Linked DNA regions of Homo sapiens. The protein of the gene in region 1 interacts with the protein of each later gene in a biochemical or structural test. Each region holds a gene or a part of one and is shown on either strand. Other genes may lie near its edges.

What was found. The genes of interacting proteins can lie anywhere in the genome.
Region 2: the proteins of KCNIP3 (region 1) and GRK6 form a complex in vitro, tested with the Homo sapiens proteins (one study listed by BioGRID).

What each region holds. Positions count from the first base shown.
Region 1 is NC_000002.12:95,292,847-95,300,783, reverse strand, and holds the start of KCNIP3 (calsenilin), read right to left. Parts: upstream 3,438-7,937; 5' UTR 3,346-3,437; coding exon 3,331-3,345; intron 1-3,330. UniProt on the Homo sapiens protein: Calcium-dependent transcriptional repressor that binds to the DRE element of genes including PDYN and FOS. Affinity for DNA is reduced upon binding to calcium and enhanced by binding to magnesium. Seems to be involved in nociception.
Region 2 is NC_000005.10:177,429,159-177,437,006, forward strand, and holds part of GRK6 (G protein-coupled receptor kinase 6), read left to right. Parts: intron 1-1,713; coding exon 1,714-1,809; intron 1,810-2,552; exon of another isoform or gene 2,553-2,778; coding exon of another isoform or gene 2,779-2,836; coding exon 2,837-2,949; intron 2,950-3,074; coding exon 3,075-3,152; intron 3,153-3,547; coding exon 3,548-3,648; intron 3,649-3,988; coding exon 3,989-4,081; intron 4,082-4,188; coding exon 4,189-4,252; intron 4,253-4,377; coding exon 4,378-4,518; intron 4,519-4,755; coding exon 4,756-4,946; intron 4,947-5,743; coding exon 5,744-5,781; intron 5,782-5,873; coding exon 5,874-5,963; intron 5,964-6,914; coding exon 6,915-7,123; intron 7,124-7,234; coding exon 7,235-7,372; intron 7,373-7,848.

The sequences.
Region 1 (7,937 bases):
CCTCCCGTCTCAGCTCAGCTGCTCCCTCTCCAACTCTGCAGGTCCCCTTGCTTCTTTCCCTGCCACAGGGCTGCTCTTTGGCCTTCTAAGGCATGGGCTGATCTCAGATGACAGACGCACCTGCTCAAAGGCAACATCAGTCAGCTGAGGCCGGGAGCCCTGGGCAGGAAGCAGCACGGGACTCGCCCCATGCTGTGCCCTCCCCCGACTCTCAGGCTCCTGCCTGCCCCAGGTCTGGGCACTAGGCCAGAAAGACGTGCTAACTTCTCTCCCCTCTTCTGCTTCACCTTGGAAACTGAGAGTGCTTTCTTCCGTGCAGAAGCCACATTGGCTGCTCCTGGAAGTCACTGGGATGCCCAGGGGTGGGCTGGGGAGGGCAGGGGGGCTCTAAGGCCCCTCTGCTAAGTCAGTAAAGCAGTTCCCTGCCTCACACAGAAGGTCTTGATAAGACAAGGCAGCCTGAATTTAAAATGTTGGGGTCCTTTACTTCCTAGCTCTGGATCCACAGTCCAAAAATGGGAGGCAGCTAGCTCCAGGTCACGTGGCTAACGCAGGGGATGCGGCCAGGTGGAGTCTGGCTTGTGTGCACTCACTGGAGGGCTCAGAGGGCACAACAGACCACCGGCCGCACGGCTGGGATGGGCCCCTCCTCTGCCATCTGGTTAAAGGCATGCCCTTCTCCTCCTGCGTCTTCTTCCGCAACCCCCAAGCCCTAGGGACTTGCTGCGCTCTGGAGTAAGACAGAGCAGGGTTCAAATCTCAGCCACAACTCTTGTAGCCTGCAGTCTGGGGCAGGCCTCTGTTTCCCCATCTGTGAAGTGGGGATGATACCAACAGCTGCCTTGTGGGCTGCGTGAGGGTCCAGGGAGATAATGCGGGAGACAATGTCCTAGATGGGCGTTGGTACCCTCAGGCTTCTGGCTCTCAGCTCTGCCCTTCTCCTGGGCTCTACCTGGAGGGCTGAGGCAGAGCCCCTTTCTTCCCAGTGCAGCCTGGGGTCTTTTGAAATGTGGGAGCAAATTAGGGCCCATCTCGCACAGTGCCCTGCAACAAGGCTGGAAGCCAGGCAAAAGGGGTTCCCAGTGCACGGGCTGAGCTGTGAAGACACCACAGCCTCAACACCGCGACAGCAGCGCCTGTCGCAGAAACTGCGGGTCTTTCGCTCCTTTCTCCTAAGAGCTCATGGGATCAAGCTCATGGAGTCCTGGAGCTGTTCCAGTTTTCTGAGCCTCAGTGTCTAGAATAGGAATGGCAGTGCCTCCCCGCCTCCCCATAGGAGTGAGGTGAGAATTCATGAATGGCTGGGGAGTAGGCTAGGGAGCCGGGCAGTCATGGGGCGTTACTGGGGGACAGCCACTGACCGTGACCCTGAGGAGTCAGAACACCTCCCAACCTGAGCTCTGACTACAGTCCCTGCTGCCACAAGAGAGGAAGGTTATTTTTCACAATCTCCCATTGATCTTGATGAGAAACCTAATGGTGGCTTCTCCTAGGACCACTGTCTCTGCTGGGCCCAGCACCAGGAGGTGTGGGTCCCACTCCCCTCCCTGGCCAGGCCAGCCACAGGAAGGCCACCAGCAGACATAAGGACAGTGAGACCCACTGGGGCCCAGGAGCTGGTTGTGGGAGGGTAGAGCGCAGTGTGGGGTCACAATGGCCAAGGGAAGAACCAGATGTAAGTGCAGGACTCAGGCCACCCACTCTGCCAGTCTGGCAGGGGCAGGAGTGGCCAAGCTCCCAGAGTGACCTTTGGCAGTTAAGGCCCGCAGAGGAAAGGCAAAGGAGGGGAGGACTGTCTTCTGCTGGAGGTCAGAGCTGGCTGTGTGCACATCTGTGTGCAGCCTGACTCTGGAAATTCCCATCTCTGTAGTCATGCAGGGTCGCTCAATGTGTCTCTGCCTATGGGCACGGTTGCACTGTGCACCCTGACGCCGTAGTGTGTGAGCCTGGGGCAAGGCGCTACGTTTCTCCACTCTGCCCTGCCTGCATGGTGGTTGCTGGGGAGACTTGAGGTGACAGGAGAGAAGGCACATTTTCCATGTGTAGTGTTGCCATGCTCAAAGGGCTTCATGCCATCACCTCAGCTGATCCTCTTGGCACCCTGGAAGATGGAGCAGATAGCACAAGGGAGGCCTGGGGTTTGGGGGCAGTGTGGTCCAAGCCAGCCACCCGCCCATGCTTGGATGCTTGTCCTCACAGATGAAAGAGGCAGGAAGCCATCTGTTCAGGGCAGAGACGCTGAGGTGCCAACCCCATATCCCTTCTTTCCTACATTCAAGACCCTGATTGTCTCTGGGTCCTTTTGCCCTTCTTTCTTTCTCCTTCCTGCTCATATGTCAGTATGAGCCCATGTGTGCTGGCTGGAGCTCCAGCAGTTATGTTGCACCTTAAGGTAACCTCAGGGGTGATACAGGGCAGGCCTGAAATGCTGCTGATCAGGCGGCCTCCAAGCCAGCCCTCCACTGCCCCTCTGGACTTCTGCATGAGAGAGAAACCCCGCTAACCTTGTTCCATCCACTGTTATTTGGGGCGTTCTGTTATGAGCAGCCAGACCTGAACTATCCTGAATGTGTGAGCAGCTCACAGGGCATCAGGCCAGACCTTTTGAGAGTCAGCTAGAGGCTGGAGGGCCAGCTTATTTCTCCTTCCCTCATTCCTCCTTTAATTCTTCACCCTTCCCTGTTCCCCACCACTGTTTCTCAAACTCTGTGCCAGGCGTTTTCCTTGCATTCTCTCTCTGACCTCCCCACAGCCCTACTGAAAGGGAATGTGTGGGAAGTGCTCTTGTTAGGGGCTCCTAGCCCTTTCAGAGGAAGTGGGCACTCATTCGTTACTTGATTGCTTGATTAGAAGATGCGTTCATTGACCAACCTCCAAGCACAAGTGACTCCCTCCCAGGCTCACCCCTCCCCCAAACCTGAAGGCTGTGGGGCCCGGGCTCAGTGTCAGCCACGCTGGCACCTGACCCAGGGACCTAACTGAGCAGGATGAGTCGTGGGCTGACCCCAAGCTCCTCCTCTGTCCAGCTTTTCTTCCGCAAACACTTATAAACCTCTCCCATCCAAAGGGAGCCCTAGGAGTTCAGCCTCCCAGCCAGGACACCCCAACACCAGCCAGGACACCCCAACGCCAGCCAGGACACTCCAACACCAGCCAGGACACCCCAGCGCCAGCCAGGACGCCCCAACGCTCACTTTCCCCAAAGGAAAGTGGAACAAGAGGGGACAAGGGTCAAAGAAAAAGGCTTCCTGGTCCAGAGCAACCCCCAGAAGCCTCCATTCCTCCCCCCGACCCCCCTCCAGAGCAAGACCCCATTCCCCCAGCACCTACCTTAGCCGGCTGCATCCTGGGCGCTGAAGAAAACTGTTGCCAGCCTCCCCACTTCACAGCCGAGGCAGACAAGACTGCCCAGGCCGGCTGGCAGCTGCCTCATGTTTGCTTGGACCCAGACGTAATTGTCAACGGCGGCTTCTCGCCCTCCCCCTGCCCACCCCTTCCTCCCTGCCGGCTTCTATCGCTCCACCCCTCTGCCTCCTCGCTCCCTCCCTTTCTCTCTTTCTCTCTCTCTCTCTCTCTCCCCTCTTTCTCTCTCTCTCTCTCCCCTCTTTCTCTCTCTCTCTCCATGGCCCCTAATCCTGGTCTCTCAGAGCCTGTCCAAGCCTCTGTCTGGCTCTCCTGGCCTCTCCCCTACCCTGTCACCAGCGGCTCTCTGTGCCTCCCCTGCCCGCTGCCTCTTTCTCTGCTCCTTGCCCTTTTTGGTCACCAAGGAGGAATGGGGGTAGAGGGTGCAGGGAGCTGGGGCTGGGGAGAGGGGAGTTCAGGGCAGGAGTTTCTGCCCCAAGAAGTGGGGAGGAGCAGCAGTTGAACCCAGAGTGCCCAGGAGGGACTGTGGAAGTGGAAAAGGAAGGGATCATTCCTGGAGGTATTTTCCAGAACAAGCCAGGACACCCCCACTGCCCCAGTCCCGCCTGCCACTCTTCACAGACACAGGACAGTGCCACCCTTATGATGATCTCAGCCCAAGGGGCCCCCAGGACAGCAGGGAGCCACTGCACCCAGCATCTGAAGCGTCCTCTCTCAGGGTCCTGGCCTGAGGTGCTGGTCTGCAAGGTGCTGGTCTGGGGCTCACATCCTAGAAACAGCAACAGCCACCAGGGCTACATCAGCAGGGTGACACTCAGGGTCCTTCCACCTCTTTCATCTGTCCCTTATTAACTACCTCCCATTCACCCATCCGAGGGCCTCGAAGCACGGGTGTCTCCCCAAAGCATGACCTGCTCATGCTCTCCAGCTGTGCTGGGTCCCCTCCCAGCTCCCAAGTCAGGATGCATCCAGGGTGGCTGAGGACCTGACGGGATCTCCTGGGGTGTGAGGGTGAAGGATGGGGCCGAGGGCTCCCAGGCATCCCTGAGAGAGGGGGCTGTGTCCTGTCCCTTGGGCGGGCAGCTCCTGGGCATTTGCTTGGCCCCCAAGCAAACCACTCAGGAGCCAGGTGCCTGAAACCTTTGCCAAGTTTCCCTTTTTGGAGCCCAGAGGAGCCAGCCTGTGCCAGTAGTTCCCATGGAGACGAAGCCCTAGGATGCCTCCCTCCTTTGCAGCCTGCACAATTGTGCTTGCATGCCCTTTTCCTTTTTTTTTTTTTTTTTTTTTGAGCCAACCAATTACCTCCAACTTTCAGATCCTCAGGGGAAGAAAATAGCCTGGAGCTGTCGACCCACCGAGGCAAGGAGGACTGTTTCCAGAGGGGAGGTGGCAGCCCAGGTGTCTGGCCCTGTGCGACTTCAGAACAGGCTGGACTTCACACTGGGGAAGGGGCTCGGCAGAGCCCGGAGGACTCCCTAGCTGCCCCCGCCCCACCCACACTGCACCCTAGGAAGTGGAGGGAGGCAAGCGCCTTCATGGCTGCCAGCTCAGGGCCGGCATCCTGGGAGCTCATCTGCTTTTTTTTTTTTTTTTTTTTTTTTTGAGACAGGGTCTCACTCTCTCACCCAGGCTGGAGTACAGTGGTATGATCATGGCTCACTGCAGCCTTGACCTCCCAGGCTCAAGCAATCCTCCTATTTCAGCCTCCCAAGTAGCTGGGACTACAAGGCTCATGCCACCATGCACGGCTAATTTTTGTATTTTTTCGTAGAGATGGGGTCTCACTATGTTGCCCAGGCTGGTCTCAAAGTCTGGGGCTCAAGTGATCCACCTGCCTCTGCCTCCCAAAGTGCTGGAGTTCCAGGCATGAGCCACCGTGCCCAGCCCCATCCTCCTTTCACTGCCTGAGACAGTCCTGCCCTCCTGACTCTGAGCAAGCCTCGCCTCCGCAAGCAGGGACGCATTGAGCATTTTGAGTCCTCATAGTGACCTTGGGAGAAAAGTGTAATTATCTCACTCTACAGATGATAATGGTGAGACCCAGAAAAGCTAAAAGACTGGCCCAAGTCACAGGCTAGGGAGTGGTAAAGCCAGGTCCCAAAGCCTGTTGCCTTCTTCCTAGAGTGAGCACCGTGGATGCTGAGATCCCGCTGGCGGTTCTATGCCCACGGCTTACACAGCAGCTTGGAAACTTGGTGACTGCACTGCCGTGATGGGCTGGTCTTCCTGACGGCCTGGCCGGAGGAGTCAGGAGCAGAGGAACCCACTCATCACAGCAGCACCCCCAAGAGCTGCTCGCCCCTGCTTGGCACACTCGCTGACATCCCACACTCAGATGCGCTGTCCTCGGAGTTCACCAGCCGTGACACCGCGGGCCTGGGACAACTGCCCTGCTCTGCTGGACCCACCGGCTGTTCGGGCCTTGCGAACCTCCCACTGCAGCTAGCACCTGGGTGGACACCCCTCATACAGATGTGGGGCGTATGTGACCCTGCCACCACACCCCCCTTCCTCAGTGGCCTATCCAGGGCCCCAAGTGCTTCCAGCTGGGTCCCTCCCCTGGGCCTGTGGGGAACACAGGAATGAGAAGGGGAGGAGAAAGGGGGCTGGACTCCCACATGGGCCTCAGAGGCGGACCTGTTGTGGGCACACGGGCATCTGCAGACTTCCCAGAGACGGCCTTGGCAATTCCCAGTATTCTCTGCGGTATATCAGACCCACAGAAGGTTAAGGAGGCTGTGGAAGGACCTGGTCTTGTCCACTAGGAACGCTTCAGCCCTGTGTTTCCCACTGTGGTTTCCTCACATAGGGGCTGTGGGGAGAAACTGAGGCTGGGGGGAGTTTGGAAGTGGGAAAGGAAGGGATGATTTCAAGCCCGGATGAAGGTCGGGTTTTCTCTCGTCACAGTGTTTCAGGAGGCAGTCGTGGGCTGTTTCAGCTGACCAGGGCCTTCATTCTTGTCCTTCCCCGGGCGAGCGGCTCATGGTGCTCATGCCCACAGGTCTTGGGGGCCTCTGCGCCTTCCTCCATTGTTGCTCATGATCCCACATTCCAGGCCCAAATTCAAGTCCCTCCTCCCCAGGCCTCCAAACGCAACTCTGTGGAGCCCCAGCCCAGGGCTCTTTTCCTTAGGCCCTATTTTTTGTTGGGCCCTGGCTGAGGGGTACAGGGGGAGAGAGAGAGAGCTGAGGGGTACAGGGGGGAGAGAGAGAGAGAGACAGAGAGAGAGAGAGAAAGCCTCGCCAGCTGGGTGCATCTTGGTAAGAAAATACAAATGGTCCTCATCACTTCACATCACAAAACACAGGCTCAGCCCCCATCGAAGCCCATGCCATCATCAACTCTCCTGCTCCCCACCCAGCTCAGGCCTGGGGGTGGCAGCTTGGGGCAGGCAGTGGGCATGGCAGCCTCTGGCTGAGCTGCGCTCTGGGTTTGCAGAGGTTGAGAGCTGTCCCTCTTTCTCTGTGGGCTCCTCCAAGGGTCCTAAGAGCCTGGCCCCATGGTCCCCTGACTAGAGTGTTTCACATGGGCCTCAGGGGACCCATAAGCCCCCAATACTTAGTGGCAGCTCTGCCTCCTCTTGGCTGAGGTCGGTTCACTCTCTGGGCAGCCTCCTTCGACTGGACCTAGGAGACTCCATGCTGTCTCTCACAGGAGGCCCTCACCTGGGCCGCCAGCCCTCTCCTTAGCTCCGCCTTCAATGCAGCCAGCCTGACTGCCCTCTAGACTTTGCAGTGGGTGAGGCATCAGTCCAAGGGATTTATTAAACTGCAGGGGACACGGTGAAGCTCTCTGGCGGCTTTCTTTAAAGCCCCTTTCCTTGCAGCTTGAAGTGAAGAGAGGGCGGCCGACCGCACCCCTTGGACTCAGCTCGCCTCTCTGAAACCTCCCTCCTCTAACCTCAGCGCCTGACTCCTTGGCTCCCACTCCAGCCCTTAGTGTGGGTAGGGGCTCAGCCACCTCTTCCCTAAATTCTGCTTCACTCGTGGGCAGAAGCCAAGGGCTCGGACGGGGCCCCACCCTCTGCACACCCCCTCCATCCCTCCTCATCCGAGCTGCAGTTCTCGGTCAGCATTTGTAAGACGGATGAGTGTGGACCACCCCAGGACGGGCACACCCAGCATATGCTAGGAAGGGCTGGGACCACGGAGAAGGAGCTTTATTCCGGCAGCATGTGCTGTGTGCACCAGGTTGGCCACTAGCCTCCTGGTTCAGCTCCTGGCACTCAGGCTAGAAGCGATGGACGACTCTGGCTCAGGGAGAGTAGGGAAGGGGGATGCTGTCCACATCCGCCCAGATCAGGGCCTCAGGCTGATTCCAGAAGACTCAGATGTGGCCTGAGTGGCACTGTTCTCGGCTGATTCATTCGGATGAGCGTTGCCCTTTCCACTCCGCCCACATCCAGTCTGTGTGCCTGAGCTTTCTCAACTGTCAGGCAGGTAAATAACAATGCCTGCCTCCCAGTTAATTCATGGAAAGTGCTTCCTGACTTATGCTCAGAACTCCGTAAATAAATGTTAACTCACATTGTTTGTCCCTTCAGGTAGTTGGGCAGGCTCTTGCCCCAGCCACTT
Region 2 (7,848 bases), on another chromosome or scaffold:
TTGGGCCTGCTCTGGCAGAGTTGCTGTGAGGATGGAGTGGGACAACGCTGGGGCTTGAGACCTCCCTCAGTACCCCTTCTCTTCCCAGGCACTCAGAGGCATGGGGAGGGGGCCCAGGGACACTGAAAGGGGACAGGGAGGGTGGGGAAGAGCTCCACTGACTGGGCAGCCCAGGACAGGATATTTGCATGTGACTCTTTGCTGCTGCCTTGATGTGGCTGGGAGGGGGGAGGAGGAAGTAACTGAGGGTGGGAGGCTGGCGGATGGAGGGTTGGGTGAGGGACCTGTGGGTGTGGGGGAGGAGTTCCCCTTCTGGGAAGGCCTTGCCCTGGGTTGAGGGGTGGGTGTCTGTTGCTCACTCACAGTGAAGCAATGACTGCAGGGCATGTTCGCAGGAGGCCTCTAGCAAGTTTCTCAATGGGCCCCTGCAGTACTTCCTTCTCCAGGCAGCTTAGGTCGGGGAGTCATCTAGGGACCTAGCCTTGCCCCCTCCCTAGAAGGCAACTTCTGCCCTTGTACCACCTGCCCTCACCCAGGCCAGATGGATACAGGACTAGAAAGCCAGAGGGGAAACTGAGGCCCAGCATGAGAAAGTGGTTGTCTAAGGTTGCCATGGCGTTGTTGGAGTTGGGGTTCACCTCTTGACTCAGCCCTACTTGATGTGGACAGTGTCTCCCATTCACTACGTAACACACATGGAGAAGCTGAGGTTCACAGATAGCGAGTGATGGGCCACAGTGTGAATCAGAGATTCAGACCCAGCTCTGGGAGGCTCAGGCCCCTTCCACCCTCCTCAACCTGGTGGCCCACAGGCCACACACATTTGGCTAGCTCCCTGACACATTTTATTTGGCTGCAGTGAGTTTTTTTTTTTTTTTAAACAAAATGGGGGCCAATATTTTATGTTAGAGTCTGCAATTCCGGCTGCTTTTGAAAAAATCAGAAGAGCTGGCCACATTGAGCCAGAAACCCTCCTAGCAGCAATCAAGCAATCAGCTGGCGTTCTCCTGCAGCTGGCCCTGTCAGAGAGGCCTTCGCTGTTCCTGGTCATCTCACATCTGGCCCACGTTTCCCACACCTGTTGGGCTCTGCAGGCAATCGAACTGCTGCTGTGACCTCAGCTGCTGCAGATGGGGTGTCTGCGAGGTCAAGCAAGACAGGCAGGGGACCGGGGAAGCCCCAGTGTGCAGGGGACGGGGAGTCCTGGGTGCCAGCCCCCTTGCCCCTGCCTCATTTGAGCGTCTGATATCTCTGATGTGGGGCCTGGTGATAGAGGCCTGGGAGCCTCCTTGTCCCCATGCTGCCCTGTGCGTCTCTCAGGCCTGCCCCACTGGCCTAGAATCTCTCCCTCCCGGGCCTTCTGCACTTCTCAGCACTGTGACGTCCTTCTCCCCTTTCTTCACCGGGGGAACTCCTACCTGGCGGGAAGCAACTGGGGCTGGACCCATTGTTGGAGCTACTTGGAACACTGTCCTCCCGCAGCGACCTCACTGCCTCTCTTGGCTCTCCCAGTGCAGGAGCCTGAAGCAGGAGAAGCACGTGTGTCCTGGAACGCAGCAAGGGCGTGCTGGAGCGTGCAGAGGGAAGGCCTGAGGTGCTGTTCTGCCTCAGCTCTGCCTTGGCTGGGCCCTAGAGGCCGTGGACCGCACTGAGGACCCAGAGGCAGTTCTGAGGCAGTGGGACTCGAGACCCAGTGTCCTATTGCTCCCACAGGTGGCGGTGGAAATCGCAAAGGCAAAAGCAAGAAATGGCGGCAGATGCTCCAGTTCCCTCACATCAGCCAGTGCGAAGAGCTGCGGCTCAGCCTCGGTGAGGCCTGGGCAGAGACTGGGGGTGCTGAGGCGAGGGGCCCTGCTGGGGCCGGGGGAGCCTCCCCTGAGACCTTGCCCCGGAGCAGAGGGGCAGACTTGGGGGCTCCAGTGAGCAGGAGGATGAGGACTGCACCATTCAGCCCAGTTTCAGTTCCTGGGCTTGGGACGGGTGGAGAGCAGACAGCAAACAGGGTCACACCGAGGGTGGTTGAAGCGGGTGTCGGGAATAGGGCAGGGGCAGATTGGGGCAGTTGATTCCACTTTGAAAAGGAGAGCCAGCTAGGGTGAGCAGGGCCCACAGGACAGAGGGAGCAGCAGCTGGGCCAGCCCACAGACTGACTGCCTTGGGACCCCCAGGCTGGGGCGTAGCCTCCCAGGCCCAGCCCTGAGGGGTGCCCAGCAAATCCTTGACCAGAAGCCCTCAGCCTGGGCAGTGTGACAGGGTTACTCCTGGGAGGGGACAGAAGGGCCCAGGACCCCAGTTCCTGCCAATCTTGGCCAAGGCCCCAGGTCTGAGCAGCACCCAAGGTTGCTGAGGCCCCCGGTGGCCTGCACGTGCGCAGAGCACACCCGGGCTGCTTCCACCTCCTGGGAAGGAGGCCCAGCTGAGAGCCTGCCGGAAGCCACAGCTTCCTCTCGCACTTTCGCCAGGCAGGCAGCAGGTGTGGGCCTGGCCCCGGCTGGGCTGGGCCGGAACCTCACGGACCGCACCCAACCCCAGTACCGTGACATACGCAAGTCGTGTAAATCAGGAGACAATGCAGGGAGGTGGATGGAGGCCTGGGCTCTGGAGCCAGACTCCCGGCTGTGTGACACTGAGCTAGTCAGTTAGCCTCTCTGGGCCTCACAGCCCCAAAACAGCTGTGCCCACCTGAGGGTTGTGGTGAGGGTTCTGAAGAAGATTGTGGCTACCACACTGCAGAGCTGGAAGCTGTTGTGGGGGCCCAGGGCCTGGTGGTGTGGGCACATGCCCCACCCATGTGCTCTCGGGCTGTGGACCCAGCAGCTTCCATCACTGCCAACAGAGCGTGACTATCACAGCCTGTGCGAGCGGCAGCCCATTGGGCGCCTGCTGTTCCGAGAGTTCTGTGCCACGAGGCCGGAGCTGAGCCGCTGCGTCGCCTTCCTGGATGGGGTGGTGAGTGCAGCCCAGCCCTGCCCAGCCCCGCGGGTGGCCGAGGTCCTGGCCCCATGTGCCCCTCCTCCCCACACCTGCTGCTTGCCCTGCCCAGACCTCCAGCTTCTTTGCTTTCCACCCTGCAGGCCGAGTATGAAGTGACCCCGGATGACAAGCGGAAGGCATGTGGGCGGCAGCTAACGCAGAATTTTCTGAGCCACACGGTGAGTGAGCAGCGATGGAGAGATGATGGGAGCCACCAGAGCCCCGTGTCAGGCACAGGAGTGACCACAGTGTCAGGCTTCTGAGGGTGGTCTCTTCATACAGACACATGTAACACACAGCCTGGACAGAGAGTGCCCTGGAGCTGCTCCAGGCAGCACGGCGGGCATGCAGCCCAGGGTATGGGCTGGGCTTGGGCCAGGCGGCCTCCCAGTGGCTCTGCTGCGCTCTGCCTCATGGGTGGGCAGCAGGAAGGACTTCAGCAACCAGGCTGGCTGGCACACCCTGGCCTGCAGCCTCTCATGGCACCAGCCCGAGTTGCCTGACCCCTCTCCCCTGGAAGTGGGCAGCCATCCAAGGGAGCCCCTGCACTGACCTGTCTGGGGCTTGTTCCCAGGGTCCTGACCTCATCCCTGAGGTCCCCCGGCAGCTGGTGACGAACTGCACCCAGCGGCTGGAGCAGGGTCCCTGCAAAGACCTTTTCCAGGAACTCACCCGGTAAGCCTGTCCCTGCCCACAAGCCTGGAATTATGCCCAGCGGAGGGGGCTTCTGGGGGCCAGGAAGACTGTGAACAGCTCGGTGGCTGGTGAGGGAGCTCAGCTGCCCAGCCCTGGCCTTGCCCCTGCTGTGTGACCTGAGCAGGCTGCCTCCCCTCTCAGTAGCACCCACAGCTTCAGCACAGGCTGTGTGTCTCCCCGCTCAGGGGTTAGCAGGAGGACTGGCCGACGACGATACCTGTGGGCTAAGCCTGTACAGAACGGGAGGCCTGGCCCAGCAAGCCAAGAGCCTGAGGTGTCAGGGGCTGGCGGGTGAGCTGGGCCTGCCTTTCCTCAACAGGCTGACCCACGAGTACCTGAGCGTGGCCCCTTTTGCCGACTACCTCGACAGCATCTACTTCAACCGTTTCCTGCAGTGGAAGTGGCTGGAAAGGTGAGCTCCCTGAAGGCTGGGCCGGGACAGGCCAGGTCGCCGGGGTTCTTCATAGGCCTTGGGCTCTCCTGCTCAGCCAGCGTTTGCTTCCCCACCCCTTGCCACAGGCAGCCAGTGACCAAAAACACCTTCAGGCAATACCGAGTCCTGGGCAAAGGTGGCTTTGGGGAGGTGAGTGGCCAGGCCAGAGCCCCTGGGAGAGTGAATAGGGTGGGTGTGTTGGGACCTGGACCACCCCCTGGATGCCCAGCAATGGCACAGCTGGCCCCCATTCGCCCCTGTCTGTCTGGCCACAGGTGTGCGCCTGCCAGGTGCGGGCCACAGGTAAGATGTATGCCTGCAAGAAGCTAGAGAAAAAGCGGATCAAGAAGCGGAAAGGGGAGGCCATGGCGCTGAACGAGAAGCAGATCCTGGAGAAAGTGAACAGTAGGTTTGTAGTAAGTACAGAAGGAGACTCTCCCTTCCCCTTGGCCACACTGGCGCACCGACCGTCCCCACCCCCCAGGCCCCACCCTCCCATGTGGGATGCCAGGAAGGGCGGGTTTGGGGTGTTGACACCAGGCTTGGGGAGCAGGCTGGGCCCAAGGAGTGGCACCGAGAAGGCTTTTTTGGGCAGCCCTGCCGCCAAGCGCCCCGCAGCTCCTGCCTGAGGGCTCGGGTCCCCTCGGCCACAGGTGAGCTTGGCCTACGCCTATGAGACCAAGGACGCGCTGTGCCTGGTGCTGACACTGATGAACGGGGGCGACCTCAAGTTCCACATCTACCACATGGGCCAGGCTGGCTTCCCCGAAGCGCGGGCCGTCTTCTACGCCGCCGAGATCTGCTGTGGCCTGGAGGACCTGCACCGGGAGCGCATCGTGTACAGGTGGGGAGGGCTCGGCCACCCCAGGGGCTTAGTCCTTCCCTGCCAGCGACTGCAGCTGGGCCTGGACGGGGGTGGCCAAGGCTGCCGATCAGGCCAGACTACAGAAGGACATTGGTTTGGGGGCTGTGGCACCGGCTTAACTCACACGCCAGGCCAACCTGAGTAGCCCAGACCTAGGCTTTGGGCTCTGCTGGACCCACGGGGTATCCTGACTTTGTCACCCCTCCACCCCCCACCGTGTGACCTTGGGCCAGGAGCTCCCTGCTCCCAACACTGCTTCCTTTTCTAGGAAGCAGAGACTATAATTCCTACTTCCCAGGTTGTTAGAAGTAGGCCCAACTTCCTACTGGAGGGGCCCAGTGAGCTAAGTACAGAGTGCCTGGCACATGGGGCTGGGTAAGAGAGAACCCTGGCTCTGATTGTTGCCGACTTCCTGTGAACCTCACAACAGCCTAGTCAGGGGACGGATGAGTAGTCCCATTTGATAGAGAGGAAAGGCAGAGTCAGTCACCAAGGGGTGGAGACTCCTTGGTCTCCACTGGGGAGGCCCCTCCGGGGTGGAGCTGTCTTCCACTCATCTAGAGAGTCCTGGGAGTCCTGGCTCTAGATCCTTCCTCTGCTCCCTTGAGTCCGGGCTGTTGCCAGGGAGAGCAGGGCTGTCTGTCGCCCTGGCAGCAAATGAGTCTCGCACCTTGCTCCACACCTGGCCCCCGGAGGCGAGTGAGCTGGGGGGGCTGGCCCCTTCTGACTCCCTGGCAAACTGAGCAGCATCTGACCCTGCTCTTCTCTCTGCACAGGGACCTGAAGCCCGAGAACATCTTGCTGGATGACCACGGTGTGTAAGGGTGCCTGGGGTGGGTCAGGGTGGGGTGAGATGCAGAGGCCTGGCCTGTTAACGGGTCCACCTGTTTCTCCACCCACACTCAGGCCACATCCGCATCTCTGACCTGGGACTAGCTGTGCATGTGCCCGAGGGCCAGACCATCAAAGGGCGTGTGGGCACCGTGGGTTACATGGGTGAGTCTTCTCTGCCCGGCCCACTAGCCTCCTGGGTTCCCTCACTATCCACCCACCCAGCCACACCCACTTCTGTCTGGGAGTCTTCTCTCAAAAGGGGCCTCAGTAGAAAGGGCCCATGCCGATGCTCCTCTTCTAGAGGTTAGGAGACCAAGACTCAGCCGGGGCCGCACACAGTTGTGAAGCCATGTCGTTCATTTGCTGAATACTTATTAAACCCTGCTATGGCTGAGCCTGCAGGTGGCTACCGGGGGATGGAGGAGAGAGACCCAAACCTGTTTCCGTGGCCCCAGTCCCTGCCCTCCCTGTGCCCATCTGTGAGGGAGGCCAGTGGAGGGGCCAACATGAGGCCCCACATTCCACCTGGAGACCGAGAGACGCAGGAGGCAGAGTCCTGGCTCTGCAGGCTCCGCCTCTTGCCGGTTGCGTGGCCTTGAACCAGACACTCCGCTGCTCCCGGCCTCACTCTGCTCCACTGGAAAACACTCATCATACCTGCCTCCCAGGGCTGCCTGGAAGATGAAAAGGGAGAGTTCAGGGAAAACTCCCCACAGGGCTGCCCTGGCAGGTAGGAGGTATTCAGAAAATAGGAGTTTCCTTCTTCTCGCTGATATTAAATCCAGAAGTTGCAAAATGGTAGCCACATGGGCCCAATTTGGCCTACATTTGTGTTTAAGTCAAACTGTTTTTAGTAAGCCAGATGGTTTCACATACAAAATACAGATTTCTGACTTCTTGTGTAAAATCTGAAGACCCGGGGACCCTGGGCGCGGCCTCCTGCAGGGCCGTATTCACCCCGCTTGATGGGGCCTGTGCTCTCCTACTGGCCAAGGTCCCCCCTGGCCAGCGGGTGTGAGTGTATCCCAGACCTAACGTGCACTGGCGTTCCTGGGGCCTGAGGGTCCACTGCCCGCCTCCTGCCCAGCCCTAACTCCCATGCCGCCCGCCCAGCTCCGGAGGTGGTGAAGAATGAACGGTACACGTTCAGCCCTGACTGGTGGGCGCTCGGCTGCCTCCTGTACGAGATGATCGCAGGCCAGTCGCCCTTCCAGCAGAGGAAGAAGAAGATCAAGCGGGAGGAGGTGGAGCGGCTGGTGAAGGAGGTCCCCGAGGAGTATTCCGAGCGCTTTTCCCCGCAGGCCCGCTCACTTTGCTCACAGGTACGGCAGCTCACAGAAGCCTGGCCAGCCAGGGCTGGGGTGGATGCACCTTTCCCTCCCTCCCACCCACTCACCTGCCTGGCCTGCCTGGCCGACTCACCCCTGCCACAGCTCCTCTGCAAGGACCCTGCCGAACGCCTGGGGTGTCGTGGGGGCAGTGCCCGCGAGGTGAAGGAGCACCCCCTCTTTAAGAAGCTGAACTTCAAGCGGCTGGGAGCTGGCATGCTGGAGCCGCCGTTCAAGCCTGACGTGAGTGCAGCCCACTCCTGCTGAGGGCGGGGCCCAGCCAGGGCTGGGGCTCAGGGGCTCTTGTAGTATCAGCCAGGATGCTTCCAGTGCAAGTGGCAGAAAAAACAATCTAGTGGCTTAGCCACAGAAATAAAGATAATTCACAAAAAGGAAAAGCCCCAGGATGGGTCTGGCTTGTGGCATGCCTGGATGGGGCTTGGAGCCTCTGACAATGTCCTAGGAACTCTCTCTCCTTCCCCTCACTGTACCGTTGAGTGTGTAGTCTTCATATTGGGGTAGCTCTCCCCATGGTGCGGCAGCAGTGGGCCCCAGCAGCTCAGCCACCACAGTAGACAGAGAGCTTCTCTTCTCTTTTCTCTTCTCCTCTCCTCTCCTTCCTTCCTTCGTTCTTTTTTCCCTTCTTTTTTCCTTTCTTTCCTTTCTTCCTTTTCTTTTCTTTTTGGAGACAGGGTCTTGCTCTGTCCCCGAGGCTGGAG